Regions from separate parts of the Homo sapiens genome. Here all the other regions are reported to be linked to region 2. The links are microRNA targets in miRTarBase. Many come from high-throughput screens and were not tested one by one. Region 2 holds a microRNA gene; each other region holds the end of a gene's coding sequence.

Region 1 (5,069 bases), not on the chromosome of region 2:
AACCAGGGCAGTGAATATAGGGGCAGGAGTGGTTTGTTGGGGCAGGAATGTGATGGTGTCGTTTGAGACAATTTGAGTCTGAGCTTGCCGTGGGTCATCAGGTGATGATGCCCAGTGGACAGGTGGACACCTGCATCTGGAGCTCAGGGCAGAAGCCTGGGCTAGTTTAGATAGAGATTTGGGCATCTTCAGAGGACAGATGGTGGTTGTAGATGTAAGAAAGTAGATGCTCATGAAATCACTCAGAGAGCATGTTTAGCGTGAGAGAAAGCAGAGAGCAGAACCCTGGGGAACCCCACGGTTTGGGGAGCTGATGTGCAAAGAGAAAAGGGGCAGGCCTGGCTGAAGACGAAGGTGGGGGTTCAAAGGAGGAGAAGAAAATCAGGAGAGAGTGATGCCAAAGGATCCAGAGAAAGAGAACATTTCAGAAAGTAAGAGGTCGACAGAGTCAAGTGCAGTAAACAGTACAAGAAAATAGAGAATGGAAAGCTGCCTCACTAAGCTTAGTGAACAGGAAGTAACAAGGTGTGTGGCACGTGGTATATGTAGTAAGTGCAGTTTCCATGGACTAGTTAGCATTTAAATCTAGCTGTAACGCGGTTGAGAAATTAAGGGCTAAGGAATTGGTGTTGGTAAGAACATAAGTTTGCTGGTGTGCATGTGTGTAAGAAAGGAAGAGAGAGATGTCATATTGGGGATTAACTGTTGAATAACATCCCCACATACTCACTTTGTAGTTTGTTTGTTTTTAGAAGAAAGCCCTCAGAATCCATTCTGTGGAAGGTGACCTCAGGAGAAAATCAGCTGGACAGGAGGAATGGAGCCCCAGTGCTCCCTCACCCCCAGGAAGCTGTGTCCAGGCAGAAGCTGCACCTGCTGGGCTCTGTGGAGAGCAGCGGGGAGAGGACTGTGCCGAGCTGCATGACTACTTCAATGTCCTGAGTTACAGAAGCCTGGGTAACTGCAGCTTCTTCACAGAGACTGGTTAGCAACCAGAGGCATCTTCTGGAAGATACACTTTTGTCTTTGCTATTATAGATGAATATATAAGCAGCTGTACTCTCCATCAGTGCTGCGTGTGTGTGTGTGTGTGTATGTGTGTGTGTGTTCAGTTGAGTGAATAAATGTCATCCTCTTCTCCATCTTCATTTCCTTGGCCTTTTCGTTCTATTCCATTTTGCATTATGGCAGGCCTAGGGTGAGTAACGTGGATCTTGATCATAAATGCAAAATTAAAAAATATCTTGACCTGGTTTTAAATCTGGCAGTTTGAGCAGATCCTATGTCTCTGAGAGACACATTCCTCATAATGGCCAGCATTTTGGGCTACAAGGTTTTGTGGTTGATGATGAGGATGGCATGACTGCAGAGCCATCCTCATCTCATTTTTTCACGTCATTTTCAGTAACTTTCACTCATTCAAAGGCAGGTTATAAGTAAGTCCTGGTAGCAGCCTCTATGGGGAGATTTGAGAGTGACTAAATCTTGGTATCTGCCCTCAAGAACTTACAGTTAAATGGGGAGACAATGTTGTCATGAAAAGGTATTATAGTAAGGAGAGAAGGAGACATACACAGGCCTTCAGGAAGAGACGACAGTTTGGGGTGAGGTAGTTGGCATAGGCTTATCTGTGATGAAGTGGCCTGGGAGCACCAAGGGGATGTTGAGGCTAGTCTGGGAGGAGCAGGAGTTTTGTCTAGGGAACTTGTAGGAAATTCTTGGAGCTGAAAGTCCCACAAAGAAGGCCCTGGCACCAAGGGAGTCAGCAAACTTCAGATTTTATTCTCTGGGCAGGCATTTCAAGTTTCCTTTTGCTGTGACATACTCATCCATTAGACAGCCTGATACAGGCCTGTAGCCTCTTCCGGCCGTGTGTGCTGGGGAAGCCCCAGGAAACGCACATGCCCACACAGGGAGCCAAGTCGTAGCATTTGGGCCTTGATCTACCTTTTCTGCATCAATACACTCTTGAGCCTTTGAAAAAAGAACGTTTCCCACTAAAAAGAAAATGTGGATTTTTAAAATAGGGACTCTTCCTAGGGGAAAAAGGGGGGCTGGGAGTGATAGAGGGTTTAAAAAATAAACACCTTCAAACTAACTTCTTCGAACCCTTTTATTCACTCCCTGACGACTTTGTGCTGGGGTTGGGGTAACTGAACCGCTTATTTCTGTTTAATTGCATTCAGGCTGGATCTTAGAAGACTTTTATCCTTCCACCATCTCTCTCAGAGGAATGAGCGGGGAGGTTGGATTTACTGGTGACTGATTTTCTTTCATGGGCCAAGGAACTGAAAGAGAATGTGAAGCAAGGTTGTGTCTTGCGCATGGTTAAAAATAAAGCATTGTCCTGCTTCCTAAGACTTAGACTGGGGTTGACAATTGTTTTAGCAACAAGACAATTCAACTATTTCTCCTAGGATTTTTATTATTATTATTTTTTCACTTTTCTACCAAATGGGTTACATAGGAAGAATGAACTGAAATCTGTCCAGAGCTCCAAGTCCTTTGGAAGAAAGATTAGATGAACGTAAAAATGTTGTTGTTTGCTGTGGCAGTTTACAGCATTTTTCTTGCAAAATTAGTGCAAATCTGTTGGAAATAGAACACAATTCACAAATTGGAAGTGAACTAAAATGTAATGACGAAAAGGGAGTAGTGTTTTGATTTGGAGGAGGTGTATATTCGGCAGAGGTTGGACTGAGAGTTGGGTGTTATTTAACATAATTATGGTAATTGGGAAACATTTATAAACACTATTGGGATGGTGATAAAATACAAAAGGGCCTATAGATGTTAGAAATGGGTCAGGTTACTGAAATGGGATTCAATTTGAAAAAAATTTTTTTAAATAGAACTCACTGAACTAGATTCTCCTCTGAGAACCAGAGAAGACCATTTCATAGTTGGATTCCTGGAGACATGCGCTATCCACCACGTAGCCACTTTCCACATGTGGCCATCAACCACTTAAGATGGGGTTAGTTTAAATCAAGATGTGCTGTTATAATTGGTATAAGCATAAAATCACACTAGATTCTGGAGATTTAATATGAATAATAAGAATACTATTTCAGTAGTTTTGGTATATTGTGTGTCAAAAATGATAATATTTTGGATGTATTGGGTGAAATAAAATATTAACATTAGTTTCATGCTTCTTTTTATCTTTTTAACGTGGCTACTGGAAAGTCTAAAATTGCATATGTGGCTCTCATATTTCTATGTGACTGTGCTGCTCTAGTAGCTAAACCCAAGCCAAACTGATACCCAGGGAGGGTGTCTATCTATGTCTATTGGTCTCCATTTCTTTTTCTTTCAAAATAGTGTTTGAGGAAGATTTTCCTGCTTATGATGTCTTTTGGGAAATATGTAGGGAAGCATCACAGAGAAGATTGAGGAAGGGGAACACTCAGTGCTGACAGGAAGCGATGCCAGGCTTTTCTGGGTCCCCTCGTGGATTCCCTAACAGGAGGAGCGAATAGACAAATCTATGAATGAGCATTCAAGGAGGAATACATTACTGATTCCCTGACCACATTCTAAGCCTGGGCGTACAAGTCTGATCTATAATCCTGAGAATTATACTAAAGAAACGTGAGAAACTTTGAGTCATGGAGCTTTGAGATAGATGGTCTTCATGAGTGAACAGGACCTCACTATGCAATTTTATTTCCTGCCTTTTCCCCTTTTCATTTCTCACCACTGTGAGCCCCAGAAATGAGTCGTCATACACTCAGGTTCATTCAGATTCCATCAGTGCTGAGCTGGACAGGCAGGGAGGCTGGGTGTGAGGTCCACCAATGACAGCATTCTGGTGGGCACACCTCACCCCACAGAGAGGGGGCAATGGGCAGTGTGGCTGTCATTTGTGGGGTGTGAGTTTTGTTTAGTCTCCTGATTCTTTCAGGTGCTGCTTCATAGCTGTAACTGGTAGTTTCCCACACTTACTCCAAGTCACACCTGTCAAGAGGTACAGGGGAGCTTTTTGTGTGGCAAGAGCCTGAGCTTTCTGGAAGTCACAACGATATACTCAATGTTTGAGGTAATTTATTTGCATAAGGTAGTGTAGGACAATGCTATCCAAAGAACTTTCTGCAATTATGGAAATGCTCTATGTCTGTCCCATCCAGTATGGTAGCCATTAGCTGCATGTGGCTGTTGAGCACTTGAAATTTGGCTAATGTGACAAAGAAACTGAATTTTAAATTTTATTTCATTGTAATTAACAAATTTAAATGTAAATAGCAACATGTGACTGGTGGCTAGTATATTGGACATTCCAATTCTAGTAATTGCCTTGCATATAGAGAAAACACAGACAGCTGTGTTTATAGGACATTGGATGGCTCGCCAGTTGTTATGCATTTGAAATGGCTATCACCAGGAAGAAACTTGAAGGTTCTCCTCTACTCTCCTATATCCATCCTCTGATCGAGACAAACCATGAGGTCAAAGCAGGCTGTACATTTATTTATTTCAGGTTTTTTCAAAAAAAAAAATCTGAGGCAGCTAAGTGGTCCAGTTCATGTAAATAGGGCCAAAATTGTCAAGAAATTTGCAACTCATAGGGGTTATGCAGAAATAGACTGTCATCACAGGACTTACCATAGACTATATTCATTCTGACTTCATGTAGGCTGTGAAGAGCACCTTCTCTGGGACTAAAACTCTGATGGACTTCACAGAGATCAAAAAAGAAGTAATCATGGAGTGTAGTGGACAGGGAATTTAGAAACTTGGTCCAAGTGCTGAGCTCTGCAATTAGTTTCACGACTTTGGATAAGCCACTTAACCTATCAAAGACTCATAAATATTTCCTCATTTATAAAATGGTAATATTACTATCTTTCTAAGATTCTTAAGAAGATGAGGCAGGAACGTGGCTGACTGCTTTGTGAGCTGCAAGATGCTGGGTTAATATTATTGTGTTCTGCCCCAGGAACACGTGCACCAGGTAATGCTAATGATGCCACAGAAGTTTTCATGGAGGCAACAAAACTGGCTTGGAGCAACTGAGGTATCTGAAATTATCTATCAATCAATGTTCTTAAAAACTGAGATATAAGGAA
Region 2 (5,074 bases):
CTTCCTTCAAGTCATGTCCCCAACCCAGCCACTGCTCACTGTCTTCACTGTTAACATACTACCTCAGGCCACCATCATGTCTAGTTTATAATAACTTGGCTTTCCACACATTACTTCTCACTGCAGCCAAAGTAATTTTTATAATGTAACTCAGATTTTTTACATCCCTATTAAAAAAATTCCCATAGTTTCCAAAGCCACTGGAATTAATCCAAAGCTCTTACTATGGATCCTATAAAGCTCTAACTGATTTGACACTTGATTTCTTTAACTTCACTATCCTCTGCTAGCCCCTTTGCCCACTACACTTAATATTCCCATTTTAATTTTTCATCTGCATTCCAGGCCCATCTATCTAACTATATACTTGACATGTATACTTGGATGTCTCACAAGCATCTCAAACTTAACCTGCCTACACACACACACACACACACACACACACACACACACACACACACACACCTTGTGCCTTTACCACCCACTTAATTGTTCAGAGCAGAATTAGTGGTTACTCGTTTCTTTTCTCTGTGAGGCCTGTCATTTTTATTTCAAAGAAAACCTTGAAGTCATCCCTTCTCCCCAGTTCCATTGCCAACACTCTAGTTCAAGTCACCATCATCACTAGGTTGGACTAATAGATTAGACATATTTTTTGGTCTCCCATTTCTATTTTTGCCACAGTCCACGTGAGTCTTATCTTCAATACCAGTGACAGCACGTCCTTCAATGTGCATGCTTTGTTGATCTGCATGCATTAAAAGAATAACATGCTTTTGTGAAAAGTTGGGGGGTGTTGTCCATCTGGCGAGAATACAGATCAGGCTTTGAAAATGCCTTAAGAAAATGCCTAACTTGCCAATTATACTTTTGGTATTCAAAATATATAGATATAGCATCTGTATTAGTTAGTTTTTATGCTGCTGATACATACCAGAGACTGGGTAATTTATATAGGAGAAAGGGTTTAATGGACTTACAGTTCCACATGGCTGGGGATGCCTCACAGTCATGGTGGAAGGCAAGGAGGAACAAGTCACATCATGCATGAATGGCAGCAGGCAAAGACAGAGAACTTGTGCAGAGAAAATCCCCCTTATAAAACCATCAGATCTGTGAGACTTATTCACTGTCTTGAGAACAGCACAGGAAAGACCTGCCCCCATGATTCAATGACCTCCTACTGGGTCCCTTCCACAACACGTGGGAATTCAAGATGAGATTTGAGTGGGGACACAGCCAAACCATAGCTTCTATATTGTTCCAACTCCAAATCAGAAGATTAGGCCTAATAATGCATAGATTGATGATGACAACTCAGGACTATCCTGGAAAATTCAGGCCAAAAAGTTAGGAACATATTGACTGCAATAGGAAATAGAAAATATGTGGGCTGTTGCTAGGAATTCTTTCCTTTAACTAAAATCTATCTTTTTAAAAGTCAGAAGAGCAAGTATTGTAAAAAAAAGTAAGTTTACACTTATTCTACCCAAGGGGTAAAAACATGTAGCTAAGTAAATTCTTCATCTCCCTTTTCTCAGAACTCCTTAAAGAACTTAGGGAAATGTGATGTGAGCAACCATAGTTCCCTAGATTACTCCACTTTTTTTCTGTTATTAAATAAGGAAATTTTATACCTTGAATCTTATATCAACAGTTGCTATATAAAAACCACCCTAAAGCTCAATGGCTTAAAACAATAATTTATTTAGCTTATGATTCTGGTGGTTACCAGTTTGAGTTGTTTGCAGCTGGGCAGTTCTTCTGCTGGCTTCTCCTGGGATCACTCATGCAGCTGTAGTTATCTGGTATCTCGACTGGAGTGAGATGGCCTAAAGAAGCTTTCTTCAACTGTCTGGCAGGTGGTGCTGACCATCAGCTGGGCTTCTCTCTGAGGGTGGTTGTTATCCTCAAGAGGGCTAGCATGTGCTTTTATCCATAAGAGGGCTAGCCTGGACTAGAGTGTGAGAGCAGAAGCTGCAAGGCCTCTTGAAGCCCAGGCTAGGAAGCCATACAAAGTCATTTCTATTGGCCAAAGCTGGCCACAGAGACAGCTCAGATGCAAGGGGAAGAGAACTATACTCTACCACTTGACAAGGGAGTGACAAAATCACATTACCAAGTGTTAGCACGCAGGGATGAAAAGAATTGGGGCCATCATTGCCAGCAATCTACACAACTTCATTACCCCTTTAGAGAAACACTTTCTCTGAGTTATTAGATTAGTGCAAAAGTAATTGCAGTTTTTGCATTACGTTCTATGGCAAAACTGTAATTACTTTTGTACCAACATAATACTTCATATATGTATATCTGTATGTATGGTTATGTACATGTGTGTATATAGATTACATGCTGTAACTCAGAAATATACATGTATGCACACATAGCATACTTGTGCATAAATAAATTATTTACTAATATGTAGGTATGCATTAGTGAACCTATAAACATTTGGACAGGAGTTGTTTGTGGTTGTCTATTATGTTGTCTAAATGCATTTGTAAAAGGATCCATGCAATAAATGCATAAATATGTCTTAGAAGATGTGTAACTCTTAAATAAATAATTCTTTTGTTCAGATAAACAATGCATAATTCATCACTGGCCCTTATTTTGGCATCTAGAAAGCTCAGAGTTAAATGTAATGTCATTGTCCATTCTTGATATTAGCTTAGATATAATTGTCTTTCACTTAGAATTAGTTTCCAATTGCAATTATTTACTTGCTTATTGTTTATGTGTATTTATTATAAGCTACTTCAATCATTTTCAAAATGAGATGAAATATAAGCAAAACATTAAAAAACATAACAATGTGTCTTTTGAAGTATCAGATGTATTTTCATTTTAGAGAATGATAATAATGCACTCTAGAAACTCTGGAGAACCAGTTCACTTTGGCAATGTTTTTAGTCTTAGCTTATGAAATAAAGATAGTTCAAATAGTGGAGAAGAGTGCCCCAGAGAACTACTGGGCTCAAATGCTTATAGTTTAATTCGTTCTATTTCTTCCACTTCACAATCAATCATCTAGAAAAGCCATGATGACTCATCCTTAAAAAAGAGTCATTGATTTTATATCTCCATTTTCAATCTGCTCTTCAATTCACCTCTTTCTCCTTCTAATTCAGAAAGGAGTCTTCATGGAGAAACAAATAATTAATTTGGTTATTGGCCAATATCAGGTTATTCTCTCACATGTGAGAGATATCTAAAAATAAAGCTACTTTTTTCACTTTCGGTTCTTGTCATTATTTTTAGTAAATTTCTGAATTATAAACTCCCAATTCATACCATGCATAATATTTTTCTTTGATTTTCCTTTTCTCTCCAAAAGAATCCAAATATTTCTCCACAACACAATTGCATTTGTCTTGCCCTTTTTAGACTAGAAGTGCAAAGAATGCAAATGGGTATGGAGGCTATACCATTTTAGTCATTTAATTGTTCAATCACACTTCACTGATTCAGGGATGGCTTATCTGGCAAACTCTACCACCCAGGGCACAGTCACCAACCTGTAATAAGCAAAGAATTGCCAGGAAAATGTTATATTACATTCAAGTTGTCAATTTTAAAAGACATGGGAAGATTTCCACCGAAATTGTTTTTTTTTTTTTTTTTTTTTTTTTGAGACGGAGTCTCGCTCTGTCGCCCAGGCTGGAGTGCAGTGGCACCATCTCGGCTCACTGCAAGCTCCGCCTCCCGGGTTCACGCCATTCTCCTGCCTCAGCCTCCCAAGTAGCTGGGACCACAGGCGCCCGCCACTACGCCCGGCTAATTTTTTGTATTTTTAGTAGAGACGGGGTTTCACCGTTTTAGCCGGGATGGTCTCGATCTCCTGACCTCGTGATCCGCCCGCCTCGGCCTCCCAAAGTGCTGGGACTACAGGCGTGAGCCACCGCGCCCGGCCCCGAAATTGTTATTGTTGATGTTCTTATTAGTTTCTGTGCTTTAAAGAGTTATGTTCAATTACTGGGAAATTAATTGATTGCAGGACTCATTCACCATTCTTTGCACAGTTTTTTGTTTGTTTGTTTGTTTTCTTTTTTTTTGAGACGGAGTCTCACTCTGTCGCCCAGGTTGGAGTGCAGTGGCGCGATTCGGCTCACCGCAAGCTCCACCCCTCGGGTTCACGCCATTCTCCTGCCTCAGCGTCTCTAGTAGCTGGGACTACAGGCGCCCGCCACCACGCCCGGCTAATTTTTCTAGTTTTTTTTAAGTAGAGACGGGGTTTCACCGTGTTAGTTAGGATGGTCTCGATCTCCTGACCTTGTGATCCCCCTGCCTCGGCCTCCCAAAGTGCTGGGATTACAGGCGTGAGCCACCGCGCCCGGCCTGCACACAGTTTGATGGAGCGGGCACTACACATCAGGCACTGACTAGGAGCTGGATCCTCTGTAGTGATGAACAAAACAAACACCACTGCCGCCTTGATGGAGCTTGCAGGATTGCAGTGGAGATGGACAGTTACTAAGAAAAAAAAAAAGTAGAACATGGGGGTATAATAGAGAACCCCGAGTGGGAGTGAGGAGATAGAGAGCATGATTATTTATTTAGAGTAATCAGGTAGGGCCAGAAGCCCCCAAAGAGGATGGAGCCAGCAATGTGAAAAGGGGAAGAAGGGTGCAATAGCAGAAACAACGACCAAAGGATTTGAGGTAGGAAAGAGATTGGCAATGCAGAGGTGCTGCAAGGAGGCTGGTGTGATCAGAATATGGGTTAGAGGGAGAACAGAATGATTTGGGATTGAGGAAGAAATTGCTGGATCATGGAGGGTTCTGCAGAATACAGTAAGGAGTCTGGATTTTATTCAAAGTATCATAGGAAGCCTTTGAAGGATTTCAAGCATAGTCACTGGGTAACCAGCTTGAAGTGTTTTGTTGCTCTTTGTGTTTGGTTATATTTGTTAAAAAACAAAACAAAACAAAAAAGCAATGCAGGAATGCTTCTGCAAATGTGTGGTGAAGAAATGAATACATATTTTAAAGACCCTAAATCTTAAACAATTGAGGGAGGATTATATAAGAAAAATAACTGAAAACTACAAATATAAAATGAGGAACAGAGT
Region 3 (5,069 bases), not on the chromosome of region 2:
AAGTGGCTTTCCTCTTCTTTCCTTGTCCTAGCCAGCCTTTAATTTTAAACGCTGTAATTAACAATTCGCAGTGGTCAATTTCCTTTATTCTGCAAGATTCGGCTTTGAGAGGCATCCGCCCTCTTTGGTCCACAGCGTTTTGAAATATGGGGAGGAGGGGCGCGGGGGGTGTCGCCTCTTTTTCTGTAGAAAGAGGAAGCTCGTGAGCGCGGAACGGCAGCAGTAGGAGAGCGAGAAGGGTTTTTTTCAGGCTGCGGGTCGGAGGGCAGAAGTGCAGTTCCCAGCCCAGAGACAGCGGGGCGGGTGGCTCTTCCTCACGCTCGCTCTTGGCTTGCTCCCTGCAGCTTTTCCTCCGCAACCATGTCTGACAAACCCGATATGGCTGAGATCGAGAAATTCGATAAGTCGAAACTGAAGAAGACAGAGACGCAAGAGAAAAATCCACTGCCTTCCAAAGAAAGTGAGCTCCGACCCACCCCCATCTTTAGAAAGGCTGGGTGGGAGCGGCCGGTGGGAGGGCGGGAGGCTGGGAGCGGCCGCGGGAAGAATTCGGGAGGGGGGAGTGCGGGGGAAGAGCCGACAGTTGATGAATGTGGCTTGCAAAGGTTAATTAAAAATGGTTTTGCAGCCAACAAACACGGGGCTTTAGTAATTTAGTAATGGAATATTTAATATGCCATATTAATATACAAACATTTATCCATTAAAATGTATTTCTATTTAGTATATTCAATATACATATTTTATTCCATTGTGGAATACCGTGTAGAATGTTTATGATTTGAAAAGATGCTTTAAATGAAAGCCCTTTAGTCTGTACTGAATCCTTTAATCATCTCCCTCCATCTTTTTTTTTTTTTTTTTTCTGGTCACAGCGATTGAACAGGAGAAGCAAGCAGGCGAATCGTAATGAGGCGTGCGCCGCCAATATGCACTGTACATTCCACAAGCATTGCCTTCTTATTTTACTTCTTTTAGCTGTTTAACTTTGTAAGATGCAAAGAGGTTGGATCAAGTTTAAATGACTGTGCTGCCCCTTTCACATCAAAGAACTACTGACAACGAAGGCCGCGCCTGCCTTTCCCATCTGTCTATCTATCTGGCTGGCAGGGAAGGAAAGAACTTGCATGTTGGTGAAGGAAGAAGTGGGGTGGAAGAAGTGGGGTGGGACGACAGTGAAATCTAGAGTAAAACCAAGCTGGCCCAAGGTGTCCTGCAGGCTGTAATGCAGTTTAATCAGAGTGCCATTTTTTTTTTTGTTCAAATGATTTTAATTATTGGAATGCACAATTTTTTTAATATGCAAATAAAAAGTTTAAAAACTTAGCTGGTGTGTCTGTTTGGTTTCTGGAAGGATCGCGGATGAAACCTTTGCAAAGAGGCCTACCTCTTGGTCCATTGGGGAGGGACAAGCATCTGGTGACTGGATAAATTCCCTTATGGCATAGAAATGGGTTTCACCCAGGTATGCAAAATACCTTGTCTATACTAGGAGATCATTTTCTCAGGCTGATTGAATTCCTAGTATGAATTGTGTGAGAGCTTTAATAAAAATATCTTTGCAGTTCTTACGGGTTTTGATAAGCTGACATTGCACGTGCTCAAGAAAATGAAGGTGATAATTTACAGCACAGTATCTTATTTCAGGGTATCAAATTGAACTTGGTTATTTAACCAAGTGCTAGCATTAACATAGATGAGTAAAAATTACATTTTTAGCAGCTGCGTTAAGAAGGAATTTAGGACTTGAGCTTACTCATTTTCTAATGGCCGGTTTCTAATCAGAGTTCAATATTTACAATTGCTTTAATGAATACAGTTAAGATTAGTGAACATGATTTTAAATTTATTGGGTCCTCTTCATTTGAATAATCTTTGGATTTAAAAGATACTTATTCGATCTTTTGGGTTTAAAGGACACTAGCAGGACACAGGTGAGATTTGTACTAAGTTTAAATCCAGCGGGAATTAATTGACTCACATTTAGGTCTTTGAGTCCTTGATAACTTCTCAATCATCGGAAGTAGTTATTTTCACTGATGGGTAAAAGCAAAGTCCTTGGTGCGGGAAGACGGAAACAACGTCAATTTTTTAAGAGTTAAAAAAAGATTTGCCATTCTATAAGGTCCTTAATGGATTCCTCGGTTCTGTAGGGAAGGGTGGAGACTTTTTTTTTTAAATAAGCACCAGTTTTATTAAGCCGAAACAACAGCATTTAAGAAGGCTCTTAGTTCACTGAATGTTCTGCAAAGCTAAATTTTACAACGCAAATGTCCAAGAAGTTAAACATTTTTCTCTCAAAACCGATTTATGAAAATACCCTTTTTGAAGCGGAGGGGTAGGGAAAATTGTTGATCACTATTAAATTGGTTGCTTTCATTTCCTTTGCTCAACGCTTATTTTGAGAAATGCACAGGAAACCATTTACCTGTGGTTTAGACAATCAAGTAGACCATCAGGCTAGAAGCCTTGCTCTGCGTTGCAAGGGAAGGGGTGTGTACAGGCTGCTGCAGAGGCTGCTACAAAACCTGAAGCGCCACAGCCCGCTTAGCTCCGTGAAGAGAGGAGTAAGCACAAAGGTTCTGGAGCCATCTCAAGATGGAGACGGGCCTGGAGCCCTGTAGTTTTCTTGCCTATAGGGAAGGGTGTGGGCACAGTGCAAATGCCCAAGGCACAAAGAGAAACCATTCCCACGTGGGCTTTTGCTGTGTGCCTTTTTCAAACAATGCAAAGACGAAAGAAGATTTTAAGAAATTAACACAGCTCCAGTGTTCCTCAGTTGAAGAAGGAACATTTAGGAAAAGGGATAATTCATGGACTAAAAGACCTTTCTCCCCTAGAGGGACGAAGCTAAAACATAGCACAAAAAAAAAAAAGTAAAATGGTAATGATTGAATTCAGGCTGCTTGACGTGTGGAATGGGGAAATTCAGAAGCTTCTGCCCATATCACACTCTGTACACTTAACTGCTGCACACGGGGATGGGAGAGAATTTATTTTTTTAATTTTGATGGGGGATTCTTTGTTTTTCCCAAGAGAGATTCTTCCCAGAAGGGCTGGGGGTATTTATGAGTCAGTGTGGGGATATATGTTCCTGCTATGTAGGACTTGGGAGTCGACAGTATTTTTCACAGATACAAAGAGGACATTAGGTTTACCCTTAGAATGAGAGAACGTTGGGATTGAAGGAGACCCTATGACTGTTTCTCTTCCCCCCAGGACAAAACAGGCCAAGGTAGCTTAAGTAAGCCCCGAAGGTCACACAGTTTAGTCTGGGATTTCTGCAAATTTTGAATTGACCAAGACAAATAAAGCAAAAATAAAGGAAATAAAAAGAGACTCACTAAAGGACCTTTGAGATTGAGCTGGCTTCATTTTGAAATCTCGCAAATTTGTCAACCATCACAGCCACATTTGCAGCCTTCCAGTGGTTGGAATTTTAAAGCTATTTTATTCTTTCAGGAGAACAACACAGCTTTTGGGCTGTGTATGCAAAGATTGAGTGTGTATGGGGGGGAGGTGGGGTTCAAAATCTTCACAAACTTTGAGTCTCTCGGCTGTGTAAGAGACCCATTATAGTCAGAATCAGGTATTGTCTCCTTTAAATGCACAAGGAAGGTCTGTTTATTTTCCCCCAAAGAAGCATCTAATTCCTCAAGAGACAAAAAGAAAATATTTTTGCATTTTTTTTTTCTAAACATATGGGGTCAATTTTGTGCTAACGAGAAAGAACAGAGCGTTTTGGAGACAATATTACAGACAAAGAGTAAAAATAAAAAATCTTGAGTCTTTCTTTGTTCAAGAATGGAAACTTCAAACGTTGTTTAAAAACGTTGAAAGCACTCAATGCTTCATTTACCCTAGTAGCCTTCACTAGCCTAGCAAGAAAATAAGAAAAAACCACCCTCCGCACTCCACACTCCCCAAATCCTTTCTTTTCGATTACACTTTCAAGAGTGGCTTACACTGCAATCTAAGAGAATCAAACACACCAATTTGGGACTCAACTAGGTTTTCTCTGCATGTAATGAGAAGGGGTGAAATTACAAATGTAAGGCAGAGATATACAACAAAGCAAGCTAGGAAGAAAATATGTTTCTAAGACCTGTATTTACCTAGTTTATATTTTCCTTGGACACTTGCATAGCATTTTATTTCTGTAATCACATTGTCGTGCTAATACCATCTTTGCCCCTGGCTTCTGAGACTTTTGTAGGCAGGGCTGGTGCATGCCACATTCACTGTGTGCATACACCACGCACTCTTCCTTCTGTGCCTCAAAGCACACTTCTCCCCTTACTTGATGGAGACTTCATTTTTTTTTATTTTTATTTTTTTTGAGATGGGGTCTCTCTCTGTCACAGGCAGGAGGGCAGTGGCGCAATCTCGGCTCACTGCAACCTCCGCCTCCCAGGCTCAAGGGATCCTCCCACCTCAGCCTTCCGAGTAGCTGGGACCACAGGCATGCGCCACCATGCCTGGCTAATTTTTTTTTTTTTATTTTTTATTTCGCCATGTTGCCCAGGCTCGTCTCAAACTCCCGAGCTCAAGCAATCCAACTGCCTCAGCCTCCCAAAGAGCTGGGGTTACAGGTGTGAGCGACCACGCCCAGTCGAGACTTCATTTAACATGCTGGTTTGGGGGTCCCTTTGAACATGTGAATGTCATGTTAGACATCACAATTTTAAATATGTTTTTAACAAATATATTTAAAGAGCTTTGAACAGCAATTTGCCTGACTTTGGTTGTGCTGAGTTTTTTGTTTTTGTTTTTGTTTTTTGAGATGGAGTCTCACTCTGTCGCCAGGCTGGAGTGCAGTGGCACAATCTCGGCTCACTGCAACCTCCACCTCCTGGGTTCAAGCAATTCTCCTGCCTCAGCCTCCCAAGTAGCTGGGACTACAGACGCATGCTGCCATGCTGGGCTAATTTTTTTTTTTTTTCTGTATTTTAACAGAGACGGGGGTTTCACCATGTTGCCTAGGCTGGTCTCGAACTCCTGAGCTCAGGCAATCCGCCCGCCTCGGCCTCCCAAAGTGCTAGGATTACAGGCTTGAGCCAACGCGCCTG

What was found. The annotated mature microRNA hsa-miR-548g-3p reads AAAACUGUAAUUACUUUUGUAC and lies in region 2 at 2,266-2,287, shown strand. An mRNA with a match to its seed (bases 2 to 7 or 8) in the 3' UTR can be bound and repressed. Matches are read on the target gene's strand: a 7mer-m8 pairs with bases 2 to 8, a 7mer-A1 pairs with bases 2 to 7 and ends in A, and an 8mer does both.
Region 1: miRTarBase lists TIGIT as a target of hsa-miR-548g-3p. Seed matches in the 3' UTR shown: 7mer-m8 at 1,595-1,601 and 7mer-A1 at 2,553-2,559.
Region 3: the mRNA of TMSB4X is a reported target of hsa-miR-548g-3p. Seed matches in the 3' UTR shown: 7mer-A1 at 1,229-1,235.

What each region holds. Positions count from the first base shown.
Region 1 is chr3:114,307,143-114,312,211 of GRCh38, forward strand. It overlaps TIGIT (T cell immunoreceptor with Ig and ITIM domains), which reads left to right. Exons shown (of 4, transcript NM_173799.4): 4 at 753-3,146. The coding sequence ends at 989. LOC124909411 (a long non-coding RNA gene) reads left to right here and starts at 4,937. Exons shown (of 2, transcript XR_007096008.1): 1 at 4,937-5,017. RefSeq lists enhancers at 111-180, 301-380, 711-810, 1,564-1,613, 1,784-1,963.
Region 2 is chr4:147,341,856-147,346,929 of GRCh38, reverse strand. It overlaps MIR548G (microRNA 548g), which reads left to right and starts at 2,213; the gene lies at 2,213-2,301.
Region 3 is chrX:12,975,902-12,980,970 of GRCh38, forward strand. TMSB4X (thymosin beta 4 X-linked) reads left to right here. Exons shown (of 3, transcript NM_021109.4): 2 at 345-460; 3 at 876-1,322. The coding sequence starts at 361. The coding sequence ends at 910. Among named protein-coding and RNA genes, the nearest start is that of TMSB4X, 3.3 kb to the left of the region's middle. RefSeq lists enhancers at 1-766, 1,902-2,021, 3,622-3,681 and a cis regulatory region at 2,375-2,667.